Linked DNA regions of Homo sapiens. The protein of the gene in region 7 interacts with the protein of the main gene of each other region in a biochemical or structural test. Each region holds a gene or a part of one and is shown on either strand. Other genes may lie near its edges.

Region 1 (4,819 bases), on a different chromosome or scaffold from region 7:
ACCTTCTCCAGGATGTCCTTGGACTCCTTGGTGATCCAGCGGGGATAATGTGGCGTGTCCACACGGATGGACTCGAAGAGTTCATCCTCATCATCACCATGGAAGGGGGACTGGCCAATGAGCATCTCGTACAGAAGGACCCCGAAAGACCACCAGTCCACAGAGAATGTGTACTTCAGGCCCTGTAGGATCTGGCGGTGGGGAGAGCAGCAGGTCAGCAGGAGCTGAGGTGCTGAGGCTGAGAGGGGCCCCTGGGCACGAAGCCTAGCCAGGCCGCCTCAGCCTATGGGCTTTGGCTTGGACATCACTGCCCTTGGGAATCCTTCCCTGGCCCACCGTGGGGAGGCAAGGTGCCTGACTGAGCGGGGGGCTGGAAGGGTATCGGCTCACCTCAGGGGCGATATAGTCAGGGGTGCCGCAGAAGGTGCTGGCCCGGCTCTCCCCGAATATGTTCTCTTTGCACATCCCAAAGTCGGCAATCTTGATGTGGCCATCCCGGTCCAGCAGCACATTGTCCAGTTTGAGGTCCCTAAGGACAGGGGACAGGTAAGAGTCAGCAGGGGACATTTCTTCTCCTTCCAACCCTGCCCCCCATGTCCTAATTTTCAGCCGTATTAGTCCAGGACTGTCCCCAAGGGTACAAGGGAATGAGAAACAGAAAAGGAAGCAGAAGGAGAAAGAGATCCTAAAAACAGGTGCTTCTTGCAAGTCCCCTACTGTGTGCTAAACGCTGGGCATACACTGCCCTACTTCCTGAAGCCCAAATGGGGCTCAAACAGGTGATGTCACTCGCCCAGGGTCCCCTAGCAGTCAGCAGCAGAAGTGACCCCCAGGTTCAGGTTTGTCTACTTCCCACAGGCAGAGACCATGTCTATATTTAGTAATTAGTCATTTGAGTATATACTTAATGCATATGGGAACTAGAAATGGCAAACAGTACAAAGTCTACCTTCCACTGAGCTCAATCATGAGGCTCTCCTTAGAGCAATTCTAGGCGTGGACAAGCATATGGCAGCATGCAGCTCGCTCCCACCTTTTTTTTTTTTTTTTTTTTTTTTTTTGAGACACAGTCTCATTCTGTCACACAGGCTGGAGTGCAGTGGCATGATCTCAGCTCACTGCAACCTCCGCCTCCCGGGTTCAAGCAATTCTCCTGCCTCAGCCTCCTGAGTAGCTGAGATTACAGGCATCCACCACCATGCCCAGCTAACTTTTGTATTTTTTAGTAGAGACAGGGTTTCACCATGTTGGTCAGGCTGGTCTCGAACTCCTGACCTCGGGTGATCTGCCCACCTTGGCCTCCCAAAGTGCTGGGATTACAGGCGTGAGCCATCGCGCTCAGTCTCCCTCCCACGTTTTAAAGGCTGAATGCTAATATTCGATATACACTTTCCCACAGGTTGTTTTTCCACTTAACAACATATCTTGGCATTATCCCACATCAGTATACAGAGCCTGACCTCAGCCTTTTTGGTGGGTGTACAGTTCCCACCATAGGATGGAATCATAACTTATTAGATGAGACTTTATGGAAGGAGTCCCTTCTGGCAGAAGCTTAGATGACTCGATGGGGCTTCAGAGCGAGACTGACGGCTCCAAGGATGGGTGGGGCGATGGTGTCAAATATGAGCAGTGAGTTCCTAGTTCCTGAAGCTGAGCCAGCCTCAAATGGTGGCCACAGGAATGCTAACACCAGGGTGGGAGGCATAGGCAAATACCCAGCTAAAGATTGATTTCCAGCAGAGAAGGAACTGGAGTTGGGGGGATCCTGCTTGGAGCATTTCAGAAGATATGATGGGGCTGGAGCCTCCCCTCCCAAGAGCCCCCGCTGCCCTCACCCCCGCACCTGTAAATGATGCCCTTGCTGTGTAGAAACTGCAGTCCACACATTATCTCAGCGGCATAAAACCTGGGCAAGAGAGAGGGATAAAGTGTTCCGGGATCTCTGCCGAGCAGCCTCTGCTTCTCCTCGGGCCCTCAACCCCACTTCCAGGAGCAAGAAATGCTGCAAATAACTCCATGGACCACCTGAGCATGATCAAGTACATCTTGTATCAGGCAAGTGGGGGCTGGCAGCCCAGGCAGAAAGTTCTGAAGGGAAAGCTCTCAGTGAGCCAATTCTCTAAGAGTGTATGCATTTACATGCATGTACATATGTGTTTGCATGCATGCACACACACACACACACATACACGGTTAGTTTGGGGTAAGGGGCATGTGAATGGGGAGAAGCAGGTCTGGGGGCCACGCACCAGGGTCCTGTGTCCTGTGTCATGCAGGACCACCATTTGCAAGGCTGCCCTGGCTGTGGCCCACGGAGCGGCCAGGACCCAGAGTATTTGCGCTGCGCACCCAGCCGCAGTTCACTTGCCACCCATGGCTTCCTGTGTGGTGCCGACCCAGGCTACCCCCACATCTCCCCAGTTGCCGCTCTAGCCCAGGCTGGCTTTTCTAGGGAGAGGGAAGAAGGCATGGAGGGCAGACTGGAAGTGGGCTCTGAGCCAGTAGCCCTTCCTCCACACTGGGCCCTTCCCCACCATGGCCCTTACGTACGTGGCACGGTAGAGTTCAAAGCGGCCTTTGTCCTGGATGTGGTACATCAGGTCCCCCCCGTTGAGGAACTCCATCACAAAGAACAGGTGGTCCTGGGGTGGGAAGGGTGGTGAGCAGGGGTGAGGAATAGGCAGGAGGCTCCCTCACTGAGGGCCACTGGGGCCAAGCCCCAACAGGAAACAGCAGGGACAGGCCCTGGCTGAGGTGGACGACTCTGCCCTGGGAGGCATGAGGGGGGAAAGCATGGCCCTGCCTTAAGTGGCCTGAAGGGGAGACACAGCCCTGACTGAGGGGGGCTGAGGAGCTGTGGGACATGGCTGTGGCATGGGGTGGTGACGGCAGGAGGCCCGGGCACCTTGGTCTGGAAGGTGCAGATGAGGTGGGTGAGAAAGGGATTCTCTGCGGCAAGTGTCAGCACCCGCTTCTCAACCATGGTGCACTCCACGTCGTCGTCGATCAGGACCACATCCTTCTTGAGGGCCTTGATGGCAAAGTACTCTCCTCTGCCCTTCAGCTCTCCAAGCAGCACCTGATGGGGAGACACGGGTGCTGAGCAGGTGAGGACGGGGCAGGGGCCACAGCCCGATTCACAGACTCCCACCTCAGCCACCTAAGCGGGAAGAAGCCAGGGTGGGGTGGGAAGCAGGTGCCCGGCTCACAGCCCTCACCTTCCCGAAGCTGCCTTTGCCCAGGACCTTGTGGAAGATGAAGTTGTTGATGTTGCACTTGCTGCTGCCCTCCCAGATCTTGCCGTAGGTCCCACTGTTGTCTGCCCGAGAGATGGCACCTCCTCAGATCGGGGTCTCAGTCTACACAACTCCCCTCCCCCGGGGCCTGGGGTAGGCTGGGGGAAGGGGCCTCAGAGAGGAAGGGGCTCGCTCCCCAGGACCGGTGGTTCCTTCCATGTCTCACTTGACAATGGAAGGGAGGACAGTCCCCTTTCTTTGGCCTCAGGGGGAATAAAAACCGTAATGGGGCAATGGACCCAGCTTCACCTTGCATGTCCTCCCCAGCAACTCCGGTCTTCTTCTCGAAACCCTGATATATCCCAACAGGCTCTGAGGAGGCTGAGTCTGATCTCCGGGAGGCTCTCTGGGGAGGGAGCAGAGGTGGGGGGCCAGATGGTCAGACCATTATCAGAACTCCCAGCCCAGAAGGAAGACTCCCAGGTATAACTCCACCCTTAACACCAAGAGGAGACAACAGGGGCACAGCCCAGGCCCCCTACTCGGGCTGCGTGTACACACACGCACTCTTCCAGGAGCCCAGAGAAGCCTTGGTGGTCTGAAAGGCTCTGATTACAAACAGAAGTTTTGTAAACGGAACCCTACCTTCCCAACCACTCACTCGATAGATTTTATTTGACTATTTAGCTTCATTTCTGATTGATTCTAAAATTTTACCTTTAGGTTTTGTGGCATCCCTCAAGCCCCCCCCACATACAAACGTCCACACCCAAAGTCTTAGTTCAAAGTGTTCCAACACCCACTCCTGTGGTCCCCAGGTTCACCCTCAAGTAAAGAACTGCCTGAATAATGAATTTCTTATGAAAAAAAGCCCCCCTCCCTCTGCTGCCTAAATTCTTGAGTTGCATCTTCCCGAAGTAGAGTCCTGGGTCTAAATATATCCTGGCTGTCTGTGGCTCCCCAGCAGTGGCTGTAAGCCTTGACTGTCCCTGACCCCACTGCCCTGTGTCCAGGGTCCCCATGGCACCTGCCCACCTGGGTGACTTGGTTCAAGGCCTCAGCCAAAAGCTTCTGGTTGATGCCGCAGAGGTTGGCCACCTTCTCCCGGCATTTATGGTGCACATTCATGCCGCAGTCTGGGGTGAGGGAGAAGCGGGGCTGTCAGTCTCAGAGCTCAGCCAAGGGCAGGGGGCAGTGTAGGAGAGGCGCAGGAGAGCAAGAGAAAGGAGGGCTTCAGTGGGGTCTGCTGGGTTCCAGTTTCTAGGAAAACATTGATCTGAAGCCATCATAAATACTTCGATCTCTCTCTCTCTCTCTCTTTTTTTTTTTTTTTTGAGATGGAGTTTCCCTCTTATTGCCCAGGCTGGAGTGCAGTGGCGCAATCTCGGCTCACCGCAACCTCTGCCTCCTGGGTTCAAGGGATTCTCCTGCCTCAGCCTCCTGAGTAGCTGGGATTACAGGCATGCGCCACCATATCCGGCTAATTTTGTATTTTTAGTAGAGACGGGGTTTTTCCATGTTAGCCAGGCTGGTCTCGAACTCCCCACCTCAGGTGATCCACCTGCCTCGGCCTCCCAAAG
Region 2 (3,597 bases), on a different chromosome or scaffold from region 7:
ACGAAGTTCTTCTATCTCCCGTTCCATCATGGGGTCCAGTGCTTTTAACCGCATCTGTAGTTCTTCTAAACTTAGATTTTTCAACTAGATACAGAAAGAAAGATACCAATACAATGAAATTATCCACATTATCCACAATCAATACAATGAAATTAGACTTTAATGTCTAATGAGTTTTAACATAAATATTTCAGCAAATTCTTTACATCATCTTTGAAGTATAGTTCAACAATTAAAACAGGAATTTCTTCCTTGAAGAACTCAGAGGTCATATCTTGCAAGAACCTCCAGTAATCTGCAATGAAGCAATCCGATCCTCTGCCTTTAATAAAGGGCAAATGAGAAAAATACGCTGATGGAATTTGTAAAAAGGTACAAAGACAAATCCACCACTGCCAACAAACAGATTTTCAGAATATGTTCCAGGTATATTCACTCTAACTTTTTACATCTTTGCCAGCTACTGAGTGCTACAATAATCATGAACACTTGCAGAGATCACTCAAGAATGTGACAAGACTGAATAAAGGTTAAATTAACCATTCTATCCTCCATTTTACTAAATGCTTAATAAAGAAGATGACTGTGGTAGGGGGCGGGAAGTAAGGCTGAATAGGCCTGGTGGGGCCCCAAAAGCAGGAAGCCATGATCAATTCTGGAGTAGGACAGTTATGTAAGAGTAATCCAGATTTGGTTTTCTTTTCTTCTTCTTCTTCTTCTTATTTTTTTTGACACAAGGTCTCAAACTTCTGGGCTCAAGAGATCCTCCTGCCTTGACCTCCTCAGTAGCTGGGATGTGCCACTGCACCCAGCTCAGGCTTGGTTTTAAAATGATAAAACTTGCAACTTACTTTTTGTTTTAAGAAGATAATTGCCTTTGGTTATTTTATGAGTCAAGCTAGGAAAAATACTCATTACTTATAGTCATCCAAAGTAGCATTTCTCAGCAGATCCTTTTACTCGCCATCCCTGGCCCTATCGTGACTTCTGCTTCCAAAAACCAAATTCACTCTTAGCTGAAAAAGACTCTGAGGATACTGAAAAGAATGAGTCATAGACTCTCTGAAGGAAATTCAAAAAAGGAGTTCCAAAAATATTTTGAGAAATGACAGTGTTATGGAGAAGAGTATGCAGGCTTCCATGATGATGACTTTGAAGGTGAATGCCACTCACTTCGGTGCATAAGAAGTTCTGGTATGTATATTAATAATCAGCCCTGTTATTTTGTAGTCATATGTCATGAAAGAACCTAGCTTTTAATATTATGCCATAAAACATACATTTATATATCATATGTAGTATTATACACTTTCTTCATTGATTTTTAATCCAAGTAGTGATCTTGCATCTGTTACATGCTCAGTGCTGTTCAAATCACTGTGGAGATACAGAATAAGACAAACAGGGAAACTCCAAACTTTGAACTGTACACATCGGTAATGGCCACATTGAAAGGCCAATGTATACCACACAACCACATTTCCCAAGAAAGACATGCCCAACTATGTCTATGTAGGATCCAGTTCCACTTCTGTGTTCTTCAACATCATCTCTATTTCAGCCCATGTTAATCTTTCCCATTTCTAAATTTCTATGTAACACTCATAATTTAAACAACACAATTTAGTATTTGATTCTAAATCATGTACTATTTTATAATTGATTTTTATGCATGAGTTTCATGTCCCTAGATATTCCAAAAAATACTTAGACTTTAGAGACTGTACATACACCAAGAAACTATCCTACTATACTGCAAATAACATGACGTAAACGTAGATAGATAAATATGAATAAGAATATATGACCCAAAGGAGTGGGTTACTCTAAGATCAGAAGAACTAACATATTATATAAAGCAAACAATTATCATTACTTTAATTCTGAATTAAGATATTCCTGTAAATATCTTGTACTACTTTTACTGGGGCAAACTGCCAATAGGTTTATAAATATTGTATTGCAGTAATAGACTGAACTCAGAAAAAGAAGCTACTTAGAAGAAAAATTTTCTTCCTTTAACAGATTTTTATATTATCAATGCGTAAAATTTGTGAAAAACAGGTCTGTGATATTAGAGAAACATTATCTAACATTATTAAGGAATTAGGTGTTCATGTAAGTAAATTAATGAAGTACCTAAATCTTAGTTCTTTAAGTGATAAAACTTTGTCTCAATATCACATACACACACATATACACACACACACACACACACATGTGCACACACACATGTATTTACATATGCTCTTTTTTGGTTCTATGTGACTTTTAGGATTTTTTTCTAATTTTGTGAAAAATGATGTTGGTATTTTGATAGGAAATGCACTGAATCTGTAGACTGCTTTGGGCAGTAAGGTCTTTTTCATAATATTGATTCTTCCAATCCATGAGCATGGGATGTATTTCCATTTGTGTCATGCATGATTTCTTTCAACAGTGTTTTGTAGTTCTCCCTGTAGGGATCTTTTACCTTCTTGGCTAAGTATATTCCTAGGTAATTTATTGCTATTACTATTATTATTATTAATTATTTTACAGCTATTGTAAAAGGGGTTGAGTTCTTGATTTGATTCTCAGCTTGGTCACTGTTGGTATATAATAGTGCTACTGATTTGTACCACTGATTTTGTAACCTAAGACTTTACTGATATGGTTTGGCTGTGTCCCCACCCAAATCTCATCATGAATTGTAATCCTCATAATCCCCATGTGTCTAGGGAGACACCTGGTGGGAGGTGATTGGATCATGGGGGCAGTTTCCCTCCATGCTGTTCTAGTGATAGTGAGTGAGTTCTCACAATATCTGATGGTTTTATAAGGGGCCCTTCCTTCTTCAATCTCACTCTGCTCTCCCCTCTCACCACGTGAGAAGGTCCAGGCTTGCTTCACCTTCACCTTCCACCATGATTGTAAATTTCCTGAGGCCTCCCCAGTCACATGGAACTGTGAATCAATACACCTCTTTCCTTTGTAAATTACCCAGTCTTGGGTATTTCTTTATAGTAGTGTGAAAATGGACTAACACAGTTAACTGGCACTGAGGTAGTGGGGCGCTGCTATAAAGATACTTGAAATGTGGAAGCAACTTTGGAACTGGGTAATGGGCAGAGGTTGGAATAGTTTGGAGGGCTCAGAAGAAGTTAAGAAGATGTGGGAAAGTTTGGAACTTCCTAGAGACTTGTTGAATGGTTTTGGCCAAAATGCTGTTAGTGATATGGACAATGAAGCCGTGGCTGAAGTGGTCTCAGACGAACATGAGAAACTCACTGGCAACTGGAGCAAAGATCACTCTTGCTATGCTTTAGCAAAGGGACTGGTGGCATTTTGCCCCTGCCCTAGAGATCTGTGAAACTTTGAACTTGAAAGAGATGATAGGGTATCTGGGGGAATAAATTTCTAAGCAGCAAAGTGTTCAAGATGTGACATGGGTGCTCTTAAAAGCATTCAGTTTTATGGATTCACAAATAGATGGTTTGAAATTGGAACTTATGTTTAAAAGGGAAGCAGAGCATAAAAGTTTGGAAAATTTGCAGCCTGATGATGTGATGGAAAAGAAAAACCTGTTTTCTGGGGGAGAAATTCGAGCCTGCAGCA
Region 3 (4,819 bases), on a different chromosome or scaffold from region 7:
CTCTAGAAGCCCTGGGGATGCCTCAGGGATCGGTGCCCTGGGCCTCTCTTCAACCAGAACAGCCAAAAAAAAAAAAAAATTCTCATTAAGGCTCACCTCGATCAGGCATTATATTAGTTTTTATGGCACTGGTGGGTGGAATGGATTTTGCTACCACAGTGCCTTCTCAACACTGCTTTACACAGTGTCTCAGCTGGGATGAAGACTGGGCCTTTAAAACCATCAGAACCATAAGGTCCCCATGGGTGTGAGCCACAGTGTGTGTGTGCTGGAGGAATTGAGCATGATCTCTCAGACAGAAATACATATCAAGTCTAGGGACTAGGTATCAACACTAAGAGTCTCATTTTTTTTTTCTTTTTTGAGAGAGTCTTGCTCTGTCGCCCAGGCTGGAGTGCAGTGGCATGATCTTGACTTACTGCAGCCTCCGCCTCCCAGTTTCAAGTGATTCTCCCACCCCAGACTCCCAAGTAGCTGGGACTACAAGTGTGCGCCACCATGCCTAGCTAATTTTTGTATTTTTAGTAGAGACAGGGTTTCACCATGTCGGCCAGGCTGGTCTCAAACTCTTGACCTCAGGTGATCCACCTGCCTCAGCCTCCCAAAGTGGTAGGATTACACAGGCGTGAGCCACCACATCTGATCAAAAGTCTCTAAATTTTGTATACATGGGCGGATTTTCTCTCAAGATCTCTGGAAGACCAAAGAGGATTTTTTTTTTTTTTTTTTTTGAGATGGAGCTTCACTCTTATTGCCCACGCTGGAGTGCAATGGCGCGATCTTGGCTCACTGCAACCTCCGGCTCCCGGGTTCAAGTGATTCTCCTGCCTCAGCCTCCCCAGTAGCTGAGATTACAGGCATGCATCACCATGCCCGCTAATTTTGTATTTTTAGTAGAGACGGGGTTTCTCCATGTTGGTCAGGCTGGTCTCGAACTCCCGACCTCAGGTGATCCACCCGCCTCGGCCTCCCAAAGTGCTGGGATTACAGGCGTGAGCTGCCGCACCTGGCCTCAAACAGGATTTGTAAGACAAGGAGTGACAATGATTTATATTTTCAAAAGGACCAGCAGCTGCCATTTGAAAAACTAAAAGTGGGTTAGGATGAGAGCAGGAGGACCAGTTGCCAGGCCACTGCAGACGAGGCTGCGCATATGAGTCATGCCCACAGTCCCACGGGCAAGCAGTGAGAGACGAGGGCTTGTTCAGATGACAGCAGTTACGCTGGAGAAAAGTGGGGAGGCTCTGCCTGTATCAGGACTCAGTGGCAGACTGGATGTGAGGGGTGAGGAGAGGGGAGGAAGGAAGGTAACTCCCGGATTTTAGACATGAGCAACTGGGCAGAAGGTGGTACTATTTATTTAGATGGCTAAGAGTGGGGTGGACTGGTGTCGGGGGAAGGAGGAAATCAGGAGCCCACATTGGGAAGGGGGACAGGTGACTGGCCTAGAGACGCAGATTGAGGATCCCTGGCATATGGGTTGTACTTAAAGCCATAGGACTGGCTGAGATCCTGAAGGGCTAGTGTGTCAAAAGAAAACAGAGTGGGCTAGCGCCCGAGTCTAGTATACTCCAATGTTTTAGAGGAGGAGGTCACAAAGAAATAACAAAGGAGCTGCCAGGTTAGTGAGTGGGGTGATGCTACGGAAGTAAGTGTTCTGAGGAAGAGGAGGGAGGTACTGACTCTTTCAAATGCTGCTGTAAGGACAAAAAAAAAAAAATCAGAAAAGAGAAATGACCTTTGGATTTGGCAAGAGGACAGTCACTGGTGATCTTGACTAAAGCAGTCCCAGTGGGGCCAAGCCTGGAAGGAACAGAGCGAACAGAGAACTTGCAGGGAGAAAGCCAACTCTTTTTTTTTTTTTTTTGAGATGGAGTCTCACTCTGCCACCAGGCTGGAATGCAGTGGCGCGATCTTGGCTCATTGCAACCTTCAGCTCCCTGGTTCAAACGATTCTCCTGCCTCAGCCTCCCGAGTAGCTGGGATCACAGGCATGCACCATCGCGCCCAGCTAATTTTTGTATTTTTAGTAGAGATGGGGTTTTGCCATGTTGGCCAGGCTGGTCTCGATCTCCTGACTTTGTGATCCGCCCACCTTGGCCTCCCAAAGTGCTGGGATTACAGGCGTGAGCCACCGCGCCCGGCCGAAAGCCAACTCTTTAAAGGAGTTTTGCTGGGAAGGGGTGCAGAGAAATAGGATAGTAGGTGGAAGGGAAAGTGAGATTAGCAGATTTTTTGTTTTTAAAAGATAGGAAATGTAACATGTATAGGCTGATGAGAGTAGTGGTTAAAGAGGGGAACTGCTGATGGAGGTGGGAGAGAAGATGGTTATAGCAGCAACATCCCTGAGCAGGCAGGACGGAATGGGGCCAAGAGCACAGTGGACAGGTGGATTGAGAGATGCAGAAACCCTTTTCCACTGTAACAAGAGAGAATAGAGTTGGTACAGATTTGAAGAGGCTGGTTGTTTGGGGGTGGGAGGATGACAGTGTTCTTGTCTGATTTCTTGGAGAAGAATGAGGCCAGGTCACAAGCTAAGGTGTGAGTATGATGGGACAGGCAAGAGCAGATGCTGGAGGTTTCAGGAAGAAAAGAAAGAGCAATAGCATTGCTAGGTGGCACCAATTACCTCTATGAGATTTGTGGTCATGAGTTCAGTGTGAGAGCATTTGGCACTGTTTTGTGTTTTTGCCCAGTGATGTTTGCTATATCAGATAGAGGCATATAACTGGGTTTTACTAGAGAGTTTGCTATGAAAGTAAGAAAGCATGAGGGAATAAGGAAAGGTAATAATGACATACCACAAAAACTCAAATCAGAAAACTCAAACGCTCAAAAACAGAACTCAAAAACACACAGAGTAAGGAGGAAGGTGAGGACATGTTCGGTGTGACTGATGTTGAGAAAGTGGAGGCATCAATAACTCTAAGGACTTGATGAAGACAAAAATGACTGGAATAAAAGAGAATACTGAGGTGGGAGGAAGGAGGCAGTAAACAGGGCGGATGCCTTGTTGAGATTCCAAGGGCAGTGCAGATACAGGGCAGATGGTGACTTGACCATGGGATCAGGTGGCTGAGGAAGCTGAGGAATAGAAAGATTGAGGATAGATGGATCATCCACATGGTGACTGATGCCTCCAAAAGCAGAGTCAGGAACAGGGGCTCAAAAGGAGCAGTAAGCCAGGTGTTAAAGTCATCAGTGGGTGAGGGACAGAAGATGGGGAATGGGGATTCAAGACCAGTAGAAGAAAAGCTGGGGACTGGAGTTTCATCTCAGATTTGTGTGTTCACGTTACGGCCTCTAGATAATAGCATCTTAAAGAAGTGAAACAGGGAAGGTTTTCTGTCTTTTCTCCTACTTTGTCTTTCCACCAGATAGCATGAAGTCTCTTATGTCTTATGTCTCTTATGAGGTCTAAGGCGGACATGGTGATGGGGACACACAGCTTTGTGAAGACTAATGCTATCAGGTTTCACTATGCTTTAGAGAAGCAGGATGAGGCCTAGGGTTGGGCTAGGCCTAGGGTTGACCCAGCATGGGAGTTCCTGGCACTGCTCTGTCTGCCCAGGCTGATGATGGTCCAAGCTGCAGCTGCTGAGGGAACCCAGGCATCCTGGTGGACCCTTTTGATTAAAATAGAGCAGAAGGAGGCCAGGCGCAATGGCTCATGCCTGTAATCTTAGCACTCTGGGAGGCTAAGGCGGGCGGATCACTTGGGGTCAGGAGTTTGAGACCAGCATGGCCAACATGACGAAACCCTGTCTCTACTATGGAAATTAGCTGGGCATGGTAGTGCATGCCTGTAATCCCAGCTACTCGGGAGGCTGAGGTGGGAGAATCACTTGAACCCTGGAGGTGGAGGTTGCAGCGAGCTGAGATTGTGCCACTGCACTCCAGTCTGGTGGACAGAGTGAGACTCCATCTCAAAAAAAAAAAAAAAAAAAAAAAAAAAGCAGAGGGAGATAATTAAAAATTTTTAATTCCTTCGAGATTTTAATTTGTAAGTACAGAATTTATATTATGGGATCGAATTTTTTTCTCTGGGAACTTAATATTGTAGGTGAGGATGGTAGTGTCACTGTATAAGTGTAGGCACCTTTCATTGCATCATTTAGGCTTAGTGCGTTAATTACTTCTGGGAGCTACACTTGACAACATGAATGGAACAGAAAGTGAACTTGGGGGCCAGTGAGGCCTTGTAAAGAACATCACTAACATCCTGTTCCAATCCACTCAGAAGCTTTTGAGGGCAAGCACTACTGTCTGCTTCACTGGCCTAGGAAGACAGAGCATAAGCTACAGTGGAAGGCAGAGGGAGAGGCCTCACTCAACAGGCAGCAGAATTTGTGTGCGCACGACTCTTCTCCCCACCGCCACACACATGAAATGCTTCCTGCCCCCTGCCCTTTACTCTCACTAGGTCCTTTTCAAGGATGGAAGAGCCTGCATCTGACTGGACAGAGGCGGAGATGTTCACTGGGCCACATTTTATCACAGGGCAGTGGGCCGAGATGGTCCTTGTGCTCGTGGTTCCAGCTCTTCGGCCTGCTCTTTGGTCCTGCCCATCACAGATCTGAAGGGCAGGGGTGCAGAAGGAACCACAGGTAGGGCCCTGGTCTGATCTGCAGGTTCCATCACGACTGATCAGAGACGGCAGGAACAGGCACCTAGCTCCTGAGAACACAGTGGCTCATTTCCTAAACAGCTTTTGTTACTCAGGTGTGTGCTTCCTTGAGTGCAAAGCCAAGCACCTTAACCGAACCTCCCACCTCATCAGTATTGTTATTAATGATGATGAAGACACTGGGCGCAGTGG
Region 4 (3,500 bases), on a different chromosome or scaffold from region 7:
AAGGTCAGGACTTGGAGACCAGCCTGAGCAATATAATGAAACCCTGTCTCTACTAAAAATATAAAAATTAGCTGGGCATGGTGTCAGGCACCTGTAATCCCAGCTACTCAGGAGGCTAAGGCAGGAGAATTGCTTGAACCTTGTGGGGAGGGGTTGCAGTGAGCCAGGATTGCAACACTGCACTCCAGCCTGGGCAACAGAGTGAGACTCGGTCTCAAAAAAAAAAAAAGAGAGAGAGAAAGAGATAACATGCCTTATCCTGGAAGGAGAGACAATGTACCCTAAGACCCAGCAATTCCACTTCTGAGTACATTCCACAGGAAACTCTCTCACAACATCCAAAGGAGACAAGGATGTGCAAGGATGGGCATGGTCATGACTGTTTGAGGCAGCAAGGGGTTGGGAAACAACAAAGATGTCTAATTCTAGAGAAATAAATAAGTAAAATGTGGCAGGCAAACATGACTGCTCTACAACCAAGAGAAATAATGAACTAGACACATATTGTATAGCATCATGAATAGAGCTCAAAACAAAATTGGTTAAAAAAAGAAACTAAGGCCAGGCATGGTGGCTCACGCCTGTAAGCCCAACACTTTGGGAGGCTGAGGCAGGCGGATCATCTGAGGTCAGGAGTTCGAGACCAGCCTGACCAACATGGTGAAACCCTGTCTCTACTAAAAATACAAAATTAGCCAGGCACGGTGGCACATGCCTGTAATCCCAGCTACTCAGGAGGCTGAGGCAGGAGAATAGCTTGAACCTGGGGGGCGGAGGTTGCGGTGAGCCGAGATCATGCCATTGCACTCCAGCCTGGGCAACAAGAGCAAAACTCCATCTCAAAAAAAAAAAAAAAAGAAAAGAAAAGAAAACAAAGAAGAAACTGATATAAAATTTAGGGATGGTCATTGCTTCTGTTCAAATACTCCTGGTGCACCAGCACAGTGGCTCATACCTATAATTTCAGCACTTTGGGAAGATGAGGTGGGCAGATCGCTTGAGCCCAAGAGTTCAAGACCAGCCTGAGCAACATGGTGAAACCCCATCTCTACAAAACAATCAAAACTTAGCAGGGCGTGGTGGCACGCACCATTATACTCCAGCCTGGGCAGTGGGAGCGAAACCCTTTCTTAAAAAAAAAAAAAAAAAAAAAAAACCCAAAAAAAACACACAAATATTCGTGGTTCTCCCCCTTCCAAAAAGGTCACTGCCCTCCTTGAAGGTCAACATGGCCACATGATTTGCTCTGGCCAAAGAAATGGCAGCAAAAATGACAAGGCTCACCTCTAGGCAAAACTTTAAGAGCCTGAATGTAGCTCTTCACAAGATTCCCTCCTCATGTAGGTATACTTGAGAGACGATGCCTCGATCAGCCTGGATCCCTAAAGGACTCCAATCTACAGAGCCTCCCACTGACCTGAAAGTGTGTTAAATTACTGAGATTTTGTGGTTGTTACCTCAACATAACCTATTCTATCCTGTCTATGAAATGCAGATTTGTAGCACAATAACATTTTAGAATCCTAAGCAGATACATACAAAACCATCCTTCTACTTCCCAAGGGTATACACATAACCAGACTAACAGGTGGAATTATAAAACCATATAAATATCTTAGAATGGTTGAGTGGGTGACTAAAACAAAAGAAAATGGGGAAAAAAGGAATGAGCATAAAGGGGAAAAGAAAAGGAAAAGACATAAAAAGGTTTATTAAACCCGTTGTGCAAATATTAGAAATTTCATTCACTCACTGACTCAACAAACATCTATGGACCTATTATGTGCCAGAACTATTTTGGGTGTACTTACAGAGTGGTGAGTCAAAAAAAGGCAGTGCAGGCTGGGCACAGTGGCTCACGCCTGTAATCCCAGCACTTTGGGATCACGAGATCAGGAGATCGAGACCATCCTGGCTAACATGGTGAAACCCCATCTCTACTAAAAATACAAAAAATTAGCTGGACGCAGTGGTGGGCGCCTGTAGTCCCAGCTACTTGGGAGGCTGAGGCAGGAGAATGGCATGAACCTGGGAGGCGGAGCTTGCAGTGAGCCGAGGTAGTGCCACTGCATTCCAGCCTGGGCGATAGAGCGAGACTCCGTCTCAAAAAACAAAAAGGCAGTGCTGTGCTTAAAGTTTATAGTGTACAGGAGAGATAAATATTAAGAACACCCCAATGAAAAATTACAATGATTAAGTCTTATTAAAAGCTCAGGTGAGCGCCAGGCACAGTAGTACCCACCTATAGTCCCAGCTACTCAAGAGGCTGAGGTGGTAGAATCACTGGAGTCCAGGAGTTCAAGAACCAGCCTGGGCAACATACCAAGACCCCCATACCAAAAAAAAAAAAAAAAGCAGCAGCTCAGGTGACATGACAAAGAGGGACCACATTCCTCTGAGATGCTTATAAACATCTCAGAGGAAGTGACATTTAGGCAAATAGGTGAAGACTGCTTCCTGCCTACCTAGGGAAGGAGGAGTGATTCATTCCAGGCAAAGGGAACAGCATGTACAGAGGCCTGCAGTGCGTATAGACCATCCCATAGAGGAAGTGAAAGAGGACTAGTGTGGTGGAAGAAAGGAGTGGCAGGAAATGTGGTTAAAGAGATTGGTGGGAGGGGGTGGTGGGGACAACAGGCAGATCACTCAGTCTCATAGTCCAATATAAGGAGTTTGGATTTTGTGTAACTGCAATAGAACCAGAAGAACATTTTAAACAGAGGAACAATATTATCTCATTATCTCATTCTAACACTTAAGACCCTAGTAATATGCTCACATGTTTCTGCAAAATACACAAAAGAAAGCTATTTTTGCATGATTTTTCTTTGAGGACCCCTACAACTTGCATCAACTTCAGGTCCCGTATTACCCAACTCCATCTCTGAACTGGGTAAGGGCTATGTTAGAGGTAAGCACAGGTGCCAAGGGAAAAGCAACCTTGCCAATTTGGTACCAAGAGTTCTTTACTGTCAAAATGGATTTTCTTCCTCTTTAGTTCACATTGTCTGATAACGTTCAAAATTGTGCCCTGGTCTAATCACAGAAATCATGAAAGCAACAGAATTCTTTCTGCTGGTAGCCCAAGATAGGGAACATTTTGCTTGAGGAACACTCTCAGAAGTGAAAGATGAAGATGTGTACAGCTTTCCCTCTCATTAGTGCTATGAAACACAGGGAAACAGTCCCTGTTTGTCTTGGGCAGCCTACACAAAGATGCCTCCTATTGTAACACAGCAATGAGTCATAGAGGTAGATGCAGATGGTACAAAAAACCAAACTAGGGAGAGTTGATTGTCCAGAAGCAAAGGCACCTTAACACATAATCTACCACCATGAATGAAAATCACCTTCCAGTTTCCTTTGGTCCAACACTTAGGCAGTAACAAAGGCACCAGCAGCCAACAGCTTTGGAAGTTTACTATGTACTACCTCATTTAATCTTCACAACTATGCTAAGTAGGTTCTATCATTAGCCCCATTTTTGCAGATGAAAAAAA
Region 5 (4,819 bases), on a different chromosome or scaffold from region 7:
AAAGTGTTGGGATTACAGGTGTGAGCCGCCATGCCTGGCCAAAATCTTTTTTTTGTTTCATTCTAGTAGATAACCCCAAAGCTTATGATTCTATTGTCCTGTATATCAGTCAGTTTTATATTTAACTGAGCAAAGTTATTTCAGCATATCTTTTTCTACTGACTACACGAACATCAGTTTATCAAACCTTCTGTGGAATCATTCATTCATCCTGCTGCTTTTCTCCTTAGTGAGCTAAGGAAATCTTTGGCCAATGCCCATTAATGCCCATTATCTATCTTATGAGAACTATGTTTTTAACCATTTGTGAATTGTGCTTTAACACAACTCTTTTGGGGTACATTCTGTAAACCAAAATAAAATTCTAAGCCCCCTAGCCATGTAAATGGACCCCTTCTCTCAGCCAAGGGCATTCCAAAGTTAACCTGAAAAACTGTTTCAGGCCATGATGAGAAGGGAGAGTCAGACACGATGTCTCATTATATCCCCTTCCTTTTGGAATTCAGGAAAAGCCAACCAGCATTAACATCAACACAGACCTTAAGTCTGATAAGAAACAATTACCATCTAGTCTCTCTGAAGCCTGCTACCTGGAGGCTTCATCTTCATGATAAAACTTTGGTCTCCACAACTCCTTATGTAACCCAGACATTCCTTTCTATTGATAACAGCTCATTCAACCAATTGCCAATCAGAAAATTGTAAAATCTACCTATGACCCGGAAGCACCTCCCCGTCCCACTTTTAGTTGTCCTGCCTTTCCAGATTGAGCCAATGTAAATCTCACATGTATTGATTGATGTCTTACGTCTCCCTAAAATGTATAAAAGCAAGTTGTACCCCATCCACCTTGGGCCCATGTCATCAGGATCTCCTGAGTCTGTGTCACTGGCACATCCTTAACCTTGGCAAAATAAACTTTCTAAACTGATTGAAATCTGTCTCAGATACTTTTGGGTTCAAAACTCTCAGCTCCTGTCTTCTTCACATCTTCCATCATGTTGTCATTGATTTGTCATTTGCGTAATTCCTTGTTCAATGTTTATCTCCCCAACCCACCCTCTGCCATAAGCTAAGCTCCATGAAGTCATGTCTGTCTTATACCTCCATGTGTTTCTAGTGACCAGCACCTAGTGGACACTCAATATATGTTTCAAGAAAAGCCTAAGATAGGCTGGGCACGGAGGCTCACACCTGCAATCCCAGCACTTTGGGAGGCCAAGGCAGGCAGATCACAAGGTCAGGAGATCGAGATCATCCTGGCTAACATGGTGAAACCCCATCTCTACTAAAATTACAAAAAATTAGCTGGGCGTGGTGGCGGGCACCTGTAGTCCCAGCTACTCGGGAGGCTGAGGCAGGAGAATTGCTTGAACCCAGGAGGCAGAGGTTGCAGTGAGCCGAGATCACACCACTGCACTCCAGCCTGGGTGACAGAGCAAGACTCCGTCTCAAAAAAAAAAAAAAAAAAAAAAGGCCTAAGATGAAACATGGAGCCAAGACAAGGAAGTCATAAGGTGAACAATGGAAAGGAAAGATGTGTGTGTGGTCCAAAGGACACATCTCTTTCTCGCTAAACCAGTTTGATTTTTATTTTCTTTCACTTGAAGCTGAAAAGGTCCTGAATGAGACAATTCAGATATGAGACAATTTATCTTAAAGAAGTAATAGCAGCCCAATTGCCACTTCTCCCAAAGTTATAGTGCCAGGTTAAGCTATTTCTTCTGACTCCTTGACTCAGTTAACTGTGAAACAGTTGCCAAGGGGGCTTACCCAGCCTCTCTGTTGGTAACATTGGAGGATATATATATATATATATATATATATATATATATATATATTTTTTTTTTTTTTTGCCATAGGAAGGGAGCAAAATAAAATCTTCAGGACAAAGGAGACACAGCAGCTGACTATGAAAACAACACCCCAGTACATCTATGATCTGTGGCCAGACTTGCTAAGGACTCCCAAGGAAGCGGTAGCTTCTCAGACACCATCTGACAGTGGGTTGCTCATATCTTTCAGGTGAAGTGTACAAGCCACTCTAGTGTCCATGGAGCCAGTCATGGAACTGTCTTTGCAGAAATTGTAACAGGGAGAAAATGATGACGTCAGTGAAAGAGATTTGATCTAACCAACCCCCAGCTTGCCTTTAACCTCCAAACTGCCCTTACGCTTTCCTGGGCTCGGGCCAAGTTAACTTTGTGACAAATTTAGTGTTTATTTTATTTTATTTCATTTTATTTTGAGATGGAGTCTTGCTCTGTCACCCAGGCTGGAGTGCAGTGGCATGATCTCGGCTCACTGCAACCTCCGCCTCCCTGGTTCAAGTGATCCTCACATGCCAGCACACCCAACTAATTTTTGTATTTTTAGTACAGACAGGGTTTCACCATGTTGGCCAGGATGGTCTCGATCTCCCGATCTCGTGATCCACCCACCTCGGCCTCCCAAAGTGCTGGGAATACAGGGGTGAGCCACTGCGCCCGGCCTAGTGTACATTTTAAATGATAATAGCCCTTGCCCAAAACTAAACTACCTTCATAAAGCTAATGAGGGACCATGAGGTTAGGAGGATGAGAGGAGCCTGAATTCTGCTAAGGTGTAGACATAAAGGATTACCAGCCATTATTCCAGAGGTCACAAGATTTGCAACTTTCCCAATGACCCCCGCAGATAAGATCACTATTGTAGACTGGCCTTTTGAGATGTCTCTTCAGGTTTTTTTGCATTTCTCGTAACCAATGGCTCCACCCCGACCAGACCGCCAACCTAACTTTGAAAGAAATTTGTTGTATATTTTAAATTATGACAGCCCTTTCCCAAAACTAAACTGCCTTTGTAAAACTAATGAAATATTGCCAAGTTAGGAGAATGAAAGGAGCCTGAATTCTGCTAAGATGTAGACATGGATTATTATCAGCCTTTATCCCAGAGCTCACAACACTTCCAACTTCCTAAGTTACTCCTACAGATAACATCACTACTGTAGAACTTGAGATTGGCCTTTTGAGATGTCTTTTCAGGCTTTTGCCTTCCTGACAACCAGACTGCCCCACCTGGACCTGCCAACTAGTCCTGTGGCCCCACCCAGAAGTGGACTCAGTGCACGAGGACCATTTTTCACACCCCTATTACTGCATCCCCAACCAGTCAGCAGCACCCATTCCCTAGCCACCCTACTCCTTGCCAAACTATCTTTGAAAAGCCCTAGCTTCCAAATTTTCAGGGAGGCTGATTTGAGTCATAAAAAAACTCTGTTCTCCCATTTAGCTGGCTCTATGTGTGTAAAACTCTTTCCCTATTGCAATTCTCCCATCTTGATAAATCGGCTCTGTCTGGGCAGCAGGCACAAAGAAGCCACTGGGCAGTTACAGTCTCATCATGTAGTTTAGTAAATTGGCCCAGATGTAATAAAATAGGGAGTGGTGAGGACGGTGACAAATAGAAAATCCATGTCCTGTCTAAAGGGGGCATTAACTATTCAACTGTTCTCAATTGTTGCCTTCTAGCCCCAGATTTTTAAAATACTAGAACTAATTCCCTCCCTCCCTCCTTCTGTCCCTCCTTCCCTTCCTCCCTTCCTTCCTTCCTGCTTTCCGTCTTTCTTTCTTCTTTCTTTCTTCTTCCTTTCCCTTTCCCTTTTTCTTCCTTTCCTTCCTTCCTTCCTTCCTTCCTTCCTTCCTTCCTTCCTTCCTCCCTCCCTTCCTTCATTCCTTCTCTCTCTCTCTCTTTCTTTTTTATCACTCTGTCACCCAGGCTGGAGTGCAGTGGCTCAATCTCTGACCACCTTGCTCACTGCAACCTCTGCCTCCAGGGTTCAAGTGATCCTCCCATCTCAGCCTCCTGAGTAGCTGGAACTACAGGCACACACCACCATGCCCAGCTAATTTTTCATGTTTTTGATAGAGATGGGGTTTCACCATGTTGCCCAGACTGGTCTTAAACTCCTGAGCTCAAGTGATCTACCTGCCTCGGCCTCCCAGAGTGCTGGGATGACAGGTGTCAGACACGAGGCCTGGCCTCTTTCTTTTTTGTTTTTAGTACAAGGACCAAACAAAACATATCTGCAAGGCAGATCCAATCAACCAGACTTCACTTTGGGACTCTGTTTTAGTATTTCAATTTTTGGAGAAAAAGGAAAACATACTTGACCCCGCGTTTGATGGAGCAAGCTGTATGGTAGCTTTCAAGGCAAAATCTTACTTACCAGCCATCAACACTGGCTTTCTGAAGTTCAGAAATCCCAAAGGACAAAGATCCCATGAAGTCATTCCTGCTGGTCAAATCCCAATCCCAAATCTCTACTGACAGTCTTCTGTCTTTGTCCGATTCTTTCAGCTGACTGCATAGAGAAAAAGAAAAGACATCAGTGGAGGTTGTAGTAATTTCTCAAGCAGAATAAATGTACAAGAGGACAAGACCTGGAGGTAGAAAGTTTTAAAGATTACAAGCTGCTGAAAGAAACATATTCAGTTTCCATCCCAGGCTAGCTCTCCAGGGAGTGAGAGCTTTTTCTGTTTGACAGCCTGTGGCTTAAACAGGCAGAGGTCTTAGACTGGCTATGACAAGAACAGTTCTAACTACTTTTGTTATCTTATGTCTTAATAGGGTTCAGGATATTCAGGAATTCCTATTGCCTATAAGAAATACAGATATCAATTGCATAATTGGGTGTGTACATGTGTATATCTGCACACAGGTGGGTTGAGAATGAGGCTGAGGAAATGCATGGAGAAAAATCCTGGGGAAATTGTCTGTTCTGAGACATGTCCTTGACTGAGGCTGAGAAGGGGCCCAGCTTTGCCCTGAGAGAGGG
Region 6 (4,819 bases), on a different chromosome or scaffold from region 7:
TCTATAATCATAATTTTAAAAAATTGTATTCTGATGTGGTAGTGTCTAGTTGCCTTCCTTATAAGCTTTCTTTTTTTCCTTTGATGCCTTTCACACCAGTGGTTCTCAACCTTTATCATGCATAAGAATCACTTAGGTTCTGGTTAAACATGTAGTTTCCTAGGGTCTGTTCCAAATCTATGTAATCAGAATTCTGGAATTGGGTTTAAGGTCTATATTCTTAAACAGGTGCTTCAGTGCCTCTGATATAGGTGGCTCATGGATCACTGTTTGAAAACACTGCCTTACTCTCTTTACCCATCTTCATTATAACTTACAGATTCTTACTAGGCAGCTTCTTGTGTGTGCTGTGAGAATATGAGACCAACCTGTAGAAACTGGAATGATATTAAATGAACCAAGTTTCTAGTTTAACTTTTTCACAACCACTTTTTCTTACTGAAAAACCACTTGTATCTTACTTCATTTGTTAGATGCTGTTCCCAAAACTGCTAATACACTACCTTCTAAAGAAGCTATAACAGTTCAGCAAAAACAGATGCCTTTCTGTGACAAAGACAGGACATTGATGACACCTGTGCAGAATCTTGAACAAAGCTATATGCCACCTGACTCCTCAAGTCCAGAAAATAAAAGTTTAGAAGTTAGTGATACACGTAAGTAACATTTTCAGTGCTTTCCACTAGGGATTTGTCATTAAGACTACCAGTGCTTTAAAAGAAAGCTCTTGCTCTTTTGTTTGTGCAGCAATCACAGGCACACTGGCAATAGCTCTTTTGTGAGTTGTTTCCTCCTGATATATTAAGAACCATCTTCATTGTATTAATCAGTGATTAGAGGCAATAGGACATGCAAACAACCAGAGAAGCTATGAAAAAAAATAAGTAAATATTTACATAACTTGGAAAGGTCACTTTTTAAAATAAAATATGTGACTAGAGTTTTGGGTAGGTAGACTAGACCCACTCAAATGTGTGACTAGAATTTTGGGTGGGTGACTACAGTGTTCAGAGGGTAGGATCACCAAACAGAGTTCTCAAGAAAAACTTATAATTTGTATTTTAGAAATGGTTTTATCTTCTCTCATCTTGTCTAATTCAAAATCATAAATATTTGCATATATGTGAAATCTTCAAATGAGAAAATATTATAATTATTAAAACGAATTTTTAAAATTTAAGCATGTTTTTCTTATTTTGACATAGGTTTTCACAGTTTTTCATTTTATGAATTGAAGAATGTCACAAATAACTTTGATGAACGACCCATTTCTGTTGGTGGTAATAAAATGGGAGAGGGAGGATTTGGAGTTGTATATAAAGGCTACGTAAATAACACAACTGTGGCAGTGAAGAAGCTTGCAGCAGTAAGTTATATTTTCAGGAATAAAAAGAAAGAGTTGCTTCATAGTGTGCCCTATAATAGGTTTTAAAGTTAATCTTTAGGAAATACATTATTTCAGTATGTATTTTCTTTAAATAAACATCATTCTAAATAGTAGTTCTTAAAATTTTAAAATCTGTTGAACACTATGGACCCTACCCCTAGAAAAATGTGGTTATGTCCATGTACACAAGATCATACATACAATTTTGGGAGATTCACAAACTAAAGTTGAGAAGCCCTGCTCCACATAGTGCTTCATGTGTAATCAAGATTAAAATGGTAAGATACCAGGAAAACTATTTTTAAAAAACCTTGTTTGCATTACTTTTCCCATTTAAAAATAAAATTTAGGAAGTATACATTAAGAAAAAACATTAAAATTTTTTTTATCTGTGTCCTTTGTTGCCATTTCTACTGAGGTGTTTACCTTTTACTTACTTGTTATATTCTAAATCTTTTGTTAGAGCCTAAAAATATCAATAGAATGCATATGTATGTGATAAAGATAGTCACTCTTTGTCATATATGTTGCAGGGCTTTTGTAGGGTTTTTTTTTCCATTTTGCACCTAAATTGCTTATGTTTTCTGTTTCCTAGAATTTTTTTCAAATTTTTTTGTGTAGTGAAATTTCGTGTTATTTCATTTTGTTTCCACAACTCAGTGAAATTTATATATATTTTTCATTCCACTAACCAGCCATGGGCCTTGAGCAAATCACTAGTATTTCTAGATCTCAGTTATTCTGTAGAATTGGGAGAATAATACACTATTGTTTTAAAGAAAGGGAGATGAGCCAGCTGATCTCTTGATCCCTCTGAGCATTAGGAACCTTAGAATTGTGTAGTATTACATTGTATATTTTATTTTTTCAGATGGTTGACATTACTACTGAAGAACTGAAACAGCAGTTTGATCAAGAAATAAAAGTAATGGCAAAGTAAGTCTTAATCTGGCAGTGCGGTGTAGTGGAAAGAAAAAAGACAAGGAGTAAAGAACCTGGTTCACTCTAGAGTATGCCATGAACTAGTGATGTTTGCACATATATGAAATTAAAATAAAGTGTTTAGATTAGAGAAATTGAAAGTACTTTTGGCTCCATAATTCTATGATTACATATACTCATATGCCTGGAGATTAAATAGCAGTCATTTTTATTTATTTATTTTTTTTGAGACAGAGTCTCGCTCTTTTGCCCAAGCTGGAGTGCAGTGGCATGATCTCGGCTCACTGCAACCTCTGCCTCCCAGGTTCAAGCGATTCTCCTGCCTCAGCCTCCCGAGTAGCTGGACCTACAGGCGTGTGCCACCATGCCTGGCTAATTTTTTTCTGTATTTTTAGTAGAGACGGGGTTTCACCGTGTTAGCCAGGATAGTCTCGATCTCCTGACCTTGTGATCCACCTGCCTCAGCCTCCCAAAGAGCTGGGATTACAGGCGTGACCACGCCTGGCCGCAGTCATTATTTTAAGTCACAACAAAGTTACGTGAAATTTCACTATCATGTCCTTCATTATCATGTTTTCCACTTCCAGAATTCATGAGAGATCAATTGTAGAGATACTTAAAAACAACTATCTATAGAGTAATAGGCCCTTATATATAAAGTAGCATCTATAGAGCAACTAGAGTCATGTTATCTGTAAGGATGCTTAGAAGGCATTGATCCTGTGTGCTGGAAAATTGTTGGACATCATCAGGAAAAGTAGGAGGGACAAAGTAGGAAATGTATTCTAATTATTATAGTGATTAATAGTGATTGATATTTGAGTGTGTGCAACATGCCAGACATTGTGCTATGTACTTTATGTGCATTGTCTGTCTAACCCTTACAACTGTTACAACTGCCCATTTTGTTTGTTAACTGAGATTTAGAAACATTAAATAGCTTGTCCAAGATCACATAGCCAGTAAGTGTTAGAGATGGGATTGAAATCCAGATCTGTTTGATTGCGGAGCCTGAACTTTAGATCTGAATCGTAATGGGATTTACCAAATTATACCCATTAAACCCACTGCTGTAAATCACCAATCATAGTTACCTAACCTCAAGTAAGAAGAATAGACTAGAATTGATTTATGCACGGTAAAAATGATACATGCTGAAAAAAGATCAAACTTTTTTTTTCAGGATTTGTCTTCTTCACTCCTACCCCTACTCTCCAATTCTAAAAGTAACTTGTTCACAGTAGGTCATCTGGAAAATACAGGAAAACATTTTTAAAATATACAAGCCTATATGCATGCAGGACTTAATACGTAGGTGATGGGTTGATAGGTGCAGCAAACCACTATGGTACACGTTTACCTGTATGACAAACCTGCACATTCTGTACATGTATCCCGGAACTTAATAATACAAACCATCTCTCAAATATATCACTCAGAGATAACCACTGCTAATATTTTTATATACTTGCTTCATGATGTGTGTGTAGCATTTTCCCATGTCACTAAAAATAATTTGAAAACATTTTAAATTATTGTACAACAGTCTAGCATATGTGAAAATCATATTTTATTTAACCATAGCTAGGTTTGTTTCTAATTTTCAGTATTAAAAATAAAGCTTCTTTAAAGTTCTTTGCACATAAATCTTTAAATGCAGTTATACTTACTTTATCATCTAGGGTAAAGTCCTAGAAAAAGAATTACTAGGTAGGAATGCATGAACTTTTTAAAGACTTTCTAAATACACATTCAAATGGCTTTTGAGATAAGTTACTACCAGCAATGTATTACAATTTCAAACTTTACTGGTTCCTTACCTTCATTTAATATCATTACTTTTTTTTTTTTTTTTTTTTTTTTTGAGACGGAATCTCGCTCTGTTGCCCAGGCTGGAATGCAGTGGTGCGATCTTGGCTCACTGCAAGCTCCGCCTCCCAGGTTCACGCCATTCTCCCGCCTCAGCCTCCAGAGTAGCTGGGACTACAGGCGACCGTCACCATGCCCGGCTAATTTTGTTTTTGTATTTTTAGTAGAGACGGGGTTTCACCACGTTAGCCAGGATGGTTTAGATCTGACGTCGTGATCTGCCTGCCTCGGCTGGGAATACAGGCGTGAGTCACTGCGCCCGGCCTATTATTACAATTTTTTAATAAGTGCCAGTCTCTGGATCTTACTAGCAGAATGAACTTGGCCAAGTTTTTTAACTTTCTATTCGTTAATTTTCTCATCTATAAAATGGGACAATAGTACTTACTTAAGTTATTGTGAGGATTAAATAAAACAGATAAATCACTTGCCACACTGCCTCGTTTATAGTATAAATTCAGCAAACGTTAACTACTCATGTTTAAAATGTGCCAGTTTGGTGGAAAATGGGACACTTACTGTTTTAATTTGCACTTCTTCAAATATTTATGAGACTAGAAGAAATTGATATAATGAACTGCTAGAATTGTGGATCATTTTGAATGAACAAAATGAATAAGC
Region 7 (4,819 bases):
GTGCTGAGAGGGAATTCATACCCTGAAATACTTATATTAGAAAGCAGGAAAAGTCTCAAATCAATAATCTAAGATCTAATTCAAGAAACCAAAAAAAAAAGAGCTAAATATATACAAACAAAGTAGAAGGAAGGAAATACCCAAGAAAGAAATCCCCAGGCCCACATGGTTTCACCGGAAATTTCTACTAAAACAGTTAAGGAGAAATTTATGGCAATTTTATACAATCTCTTCCAAAAGTTAGAACAAGTGGGAACACTTTCTAACTCATTTTATGAGGCCAGTTATCCTGATACTGAAACTAGCAAAGACTATACAAAAAATGAGAACTATAGATCAATATCTCACAAACACTTAGAGGCAAAAGTCCTCAACAAAATATTAGTAAAGTGAATCTAGCAACACATAAAAAAGTTATATACATGGCTAAGTGGAATATATATCAGATACTCAAGGGTGGGTCAGCATTAGAGAGTCAGTCAATCAACTATCCATCATACCATGAAGTCAAAGAAGAAAAATCTCATGAACATATAAATTGTCCCAGAAAAGACATTTGACAAAATACAACACACATTCATGAATAGACATGGACTATTGACTTGATAAAGAACATCCATAAAAATCCTATAGCTACATCATAATTGGTGGTAAAAACTCAGTGCTTTGCCCTTTAGGTCAGAATAAGGCAAGTTCTTGCAACTCTTATTGAATATAGCACTGGACATTCTAACCAGTACGGTAAGATAAGAAAAAGAAATAAAAAGTATATAAATTGGAAAGAAGAAATAAAACTATCCAATTTGCAGATAACATGATGATCTACATAGACAATCCCAAGAAATCTACCAAAAAAAATCCTCCTAGATCTAATAAGGCAGCTCAGTAGGTTGCAGAATGTGGACTGACACATAAAAATTACTCACAGTTCTACCTACTCCACAATAAACGTGGAAACTGAAGTTAAGACACAATGCCATTTAGAAATGCCCCAAAGAAAATAAAACACTTATGTACACTGTAAAGAAATTTCAGATTCAGAATCTGTGCACTGAAATTTATAAAACATTGATGAAAGAAGTTAAAGAAGACCTAATTACCCATAGAGAGACAACCTGTGATCATGGATTGGAAAACTCAACACAGTAGAACTATTAATTCTCCCTAATCTATACATTTGAAGAAATTCCTATCAAAATCCCAGCAAGGTTTTTGCACCCATAAACGCGCTATTCTAAAATTCATATGGAAAGGCCCAGAACCTACAATAGCTAACATAAGTTTTATAAAGAATAATAAAGTGGAAGGAAGTCACTCCACCTGATTAAAGTTGACTATGCAACTACAGTAATCAAGACAGTGTGCTCTTGGCAGAGAGACTGACATATAGACTAATGGAACAGAATAGAGAACCCAGAAATAGACCCACAGCAATAAGTGGAAACGGTTTTTAGCAAAGGTGCAAAAGCAATTTAATGGAAGAAGGATCACCTTTTCAACTAATAGTCCCGGAGCTATTGGACATTCGTTGGCAAAACCCAAACCAAACCAAAACAAATAAGCCTCAACCTAAACCTCACACCTCATACAAAAATTAACTCAAAATGGAAAATAGGCTTAAGTATAAAATGTGAAACTATAAAATTTGTAGGGAAAAAAGGAGAAAATCTTCGGGAACCTCAGGCTAGGTGAAGACTTAGACTTCACACCAAAAATCAAAATCCAAAAAAGGTAAAATTAATAAACTTGAATTCAACAAAATGTAAAACTTTCTGCAAAGGACTCTGTGAAGAGGGTGAAAAAACAAGATAAAGTGGTAGAAAATAATCACCGAGTGGTAAGGCCAGCATCTAGAAAATATAAAGAATTAGGAAAACTCAGTTGTTAAAACCAAACAATCCAATTAAAAAGTAGGCAAAAGACATGAACAGACTTTTCACTGAGGAGGATACACAGATGGCCATAAGTACATAAAAAGGTCTTGATGTCATTAGCCATCAGGACAATGCAAATTAAACCATCAGGAGATATCACTACACACTTATTAGAAGAGCTAAAATAATAAAAAAAAAAAATAGTGGCAATACCAAATGCTGCCCAGGCTGGGAAGGTCCTGAATCACTCACACACCGCCGGTGGGAATGCAAAATGGTGTAGCCATTCTGGAAAAGAGTTAGCAGTTTCTCATAAAATTAGACATGTGCTAACCATATGACTCAGCAATTGCACTCCTGGGCATTTATCCCAGAGAAATGAAAACTATGTTCACACAAAAACCTGTACAAGAATGTTCACAGCAGCTCTATTTGCAATAACCAAAACCTGGAAATAATCCAAGTGCCCTTCCTGGGTGAACGGTTGAACACACCTTGGTTCATCCAGATGACGGAACACCACTAAGTAATTAAAAAGAAACACCTATGGACATGCTTGCCAACCCGGATGGGTCTCAAGGGAATTGCGTTTAGCGGAAAAAGCCAGTCTCGAAAGGTTGCATAGTGTATGATTCCATTTATAGAGCATTCTTAAAGCGACAAAATTATAGAAAATAGGAACCATACTGTGGTTGCCAGCCTCAGGGAGGGGGAAGGAGGAAGTCAGCTTGGCTATAAAGAGTAGCATCAAGGATCCTGTGATGAAACTCTCCTGTCCTCTGATGTGTTGGTGGTCACATGGTTCTACATGGGTGATAAAATTACAGAGAACTAAGCGCACGTGCATACCACACACACACACACACACACACACACACAGAGCAGTCTATAAAATGAGTACATGTAAACTGGTGGAATCTGAAATCTGAACAAAGTTAATGGGTTGTATCAATGCTCATTTTCTAGTTGTGGCATTGTACTATGGTTTTGTAAGATGTTATTGTTGGGAGAAACTGGTGAAGGGAATTGCATGTGAATCTACATGATCTCAAAACAGGGTTTTACTACATTGCTTCAGTGAATATCCACTGTGTGTGTCTTATGCACACAGACCAGGTTTTCCCTAGAGGAGATACCTAGAAGTGGAATTGTTAGATCTTAGGATACACCCACCTTCACTTTTTCTAGATTATTCTCTAACATCTTTGTTCCTATTTACATTCTAGTCGAACTCATGTGAGGTCTAAGTTTTCTACACCTTCTCTAATATTTGGTATAGTCACAATTTAAATTTTTTTCCAGTACCGTAAAGGTAAAAAAAAATCTTTTTGCCATCTTAGTTTTGAATTCCCTGATTCCCAGAGGGTTAAAGTCCTTTTCTTATTTTATCAGTCCATCTGGGTTTTCTCATTAGTCTCATATTTTACTCTTGAGTGGCTTGTTTCAAATTACCACATTTTAGAACTGTTTCTGTATTCTAGATCCTGGCCTCACATAGGTCTGTTTCTCCTCATCTTTTAGATATCCACCTATTTTTCACAATGGTGACTCAGACCAACGCAGTGCTATTCACAGAGTCCAGAACAAAAGAACATTCGGAATGACATTTTTACGCTTTAATGGCTATTGAGTGTGAGACATTACTAATAGCTTTGGAACATGCACTCGTGGTTGTTGCTGGCATGTGGGAGATGTTGCTGTGGAAGGCAGCTTCAGTCGGCCGGGGAGATCAGCTGCCTTCTGGCTGGCCTGTCCTACAGACGTCCCACAAACCTGGCCAGCCCACCTCTGCATAAGCCATTCCTTGCCATGAGTCTCTAATGTGTATCTCCACCTGCTTCTGTTTCTCTGGATGAAGCCTGTCCACTACAGGTTTTGACAGAGATTTAAAATCTCCTGTAGAGACTATTCCAGCTACTCGCCTGGCATTTCTGCTCAGCTGGCATTAGGGCCTGTGGCATGAGCACTCTTCCCTTAAACAGCTCCAGAGCTTCCTTCACGGGTTCCAATGGGCCAACAGAAGTGTCTTACTACTTAATGGCCACTTATTTAAAATTATCCCAAGAGTAATTAGAGGCCAGGCGCGGTGGCTCATGCCTGTAATCCCAGCACTTTGGGAGGCCGAGGTGGGTGGATCACTTGAGGTCAGGAGTTTGAGACCAGCCTGGCCAACATGGTGAGGCCCCATCTTTACTAAAAAACAAAAACAAACAAAAAAACGCAAAAATCAGCCAGGTGTGGTGGTGCGCCCCTATAGTCCCAGCTACTGGGGAGGCTGAGGCAGGAGACTGTTTTGGATCCAGAAGGTGGAGGTTGCAGTGAGCCGAGATTGCACCACTGCACTCCAGCCTGGGTGACAGAGCAAGACTCTGTCAAAAAAAAAAAAAAGAAAAAGAAAAGGAGTAATTAGAATATTTTCTTTTCTTTTTTATTGACAACTAAGAAAGCTAAGGAGAAGATGATGAACAAAGACGGATGACAGTAGCCTTATGGTGAAATCATTCTTGAAAGGAAACCTGTGTGGGACATCTCTGGGTACACTCACTCATCATTGGGGTGGAATTTTAAAAGGAGGAACGAGGAGCACCTTTGCAAGGCATCCTTCTCACCACGGCGGTGCAGAGCAGCAGTCAGGCGCTGGTGCAGACTCCCCGGATGGAATCCCGCCTCTTCTTGTGTGCCCTTAGAGTAACTTAACCTCTCTGGGCCTTGTTTCCTCAACAGTAAAAAATGAAGATATGAATAGGATGGTGACATCCAGTGAGGGCATCCTAGGGCCGTCCCGACTGTTATCCGAGGTGACAAACCGCTCTCAAAAGAGAGTCTGGCAACGTGCAAGCAGTCGATAAACACTCCCAGGCGACAGAAAAGGCACAGAGGCAGCTGCTCATCTTAAGCATGTCATATTTTTAAAGAACTTGGAGGAGGATTAAAAGTCAAACAAA

What was found.
Region 1: of the proteins of MBP (region 7) and PRKCD, one has a biochemical effect on the other in vitro, tested with the Homo sapiens proteins (one study listed by BioGRID).
Region 2: of the proteins of MBP (region 7) and STK3, one has a biochemical effect on the other in vitro, tested with the Homo sapiens proteins (one study listed by BioGRID).
Region 3: of the proteins of MBP (region 7) and PTPRA, one has a biochemical effect on the other in vitro, tested with the Homo sapiens proteins (one study listed by BioGRID).
Region 4: of the proteins of MBP (region 7) and MAP2K1, one has a biochemical effect on the other in vitro, tested with the Homo sapiens proteins (one study listed by BioGRID).
Region 5: of the proteins of MBP (region 7) and PRKCB, one has a biochemical effect on the other in vitro, tested with the Homo sapiens proteins (one study listed by BioGRID).
Region 6: of the proteins of MBP (region 7) and IRAK4, one has a biochemical effect on the other in vitro, tested with the Homo sapiens proteins (one large-scale study listed by BioGRID).

What each region holds. Positions count from the first base shown.
Region 1 is NC_000003.12:53,184,430-53,189,248, reverse strand, and holds part of PRKCD (protein kinase C delta type), read right to left. Parts: intron 4,376-4,819; coding exon 4,275-4,375; intron 3,646-4,274; coding exon 3,549-3,645; intron 3,323-3,548; coding exon 3,222-3,322; intron 3,083-3,221; coding exon 2,909-3,082; intron 2,646-2,908; coding exon 2,554-2,645; intron 1,910-2,553; coding exon 1,847-1,909; intron 530-1,846; coding exon 391-529; intron 192-390; coding exon 3-191; intron 1-2.
Region 2 is NC_000008.11:98,455,917-98,459,513, forward strand, and holds part of STK3 (serine/threonine-protein kinase 3), read right to left. Parts: intron 1,378-3,597; coding exon of another isoform or gene 1,375-1,377; exon of another isoform or gene 323-1,374; coding exon of another isoform or gene 269-322; exon of another isoform or gene 85-268; coding exon 1-84. UniProt on the Homo sapiens protein: Stress-activated, pro-apoptotic kinase which, following caspase-cleavage, enters the nucleus and induces chromatin condensation followed by internucleosomal DNA fragmentation.
Region 3 is NC_000020.11:3,029,813-3,034,631, reverse strand, and holds part of PTPRA (receptor-type tyrosine-protein phosphatase alpha isoform 1 precursor), read right to left. Parts: intron 1-4,819. UniProt on the Homo sapiens protein: Tyrosine protein phosphatase which is involved in integrin-mediated focal adhesion formation.
Region 4 is NC_000015.10:66,389,912-66,393,411, reverse strand, and holds part of MAP2K1 (dual specificity mitogen-activated protein kinase kinase 1), read right to left. Parts: intron 1-3,500. UniProt on the Homo sapiens protein: Dual specificity protein kinase which acts as an essential component of the MAP kinase signal transduction pathway.
Region 5 is NC_000016.10:24,093,689-24,098,507, reverse strand, and holds part of PRKCB (protein kinase C beta type), read right to left. Parts: intron 4,346-4,819; coding exon 4,211-4,345; intron 1-4,210. UniProt on the Homo sapiens protein: Calcium-activated, phospholipid- and diacylglycerol (DAG)-dependent serine/threonine-protein kinase involved in various cellular processes such as regulation of the B-cell receptor (BCR) signalosome, oxidative stress-induced apoptosis, androgen receptor-dependent transcription regulation, insulin signaling and endothelial cells proliferation.
Region 6 is NC_000012.12:43,771,707-43,776,525, forward strand, and holds part of IRAK4 (interleukin-1 receptor-associated kinase 4), read left to right. Parts: intron 1-473; coding exon 474-656; intron 657-1,205; coding exon 1,206-1,366; intron 1,367-2,258; coding exon 2,259-2,323; intron 2,324-4,819.
Region 7 is NC_000018.10:77,125,799-77,130,617, forward strand, and holds part of MBP (Golli-MBP), read right to left. Parts: exon of another isoform or gene 2,562-4,819; intron 1,851-2,561; exon of another isoform or gene 1-1,850. UniProt on the Homo sapiens protein: The classic group of MBP isoforms (isoform 4-isoform 14) are with PLP the most abundant protein components of the myelin membrane in the CNS. They have a role in both its formation and stabilization.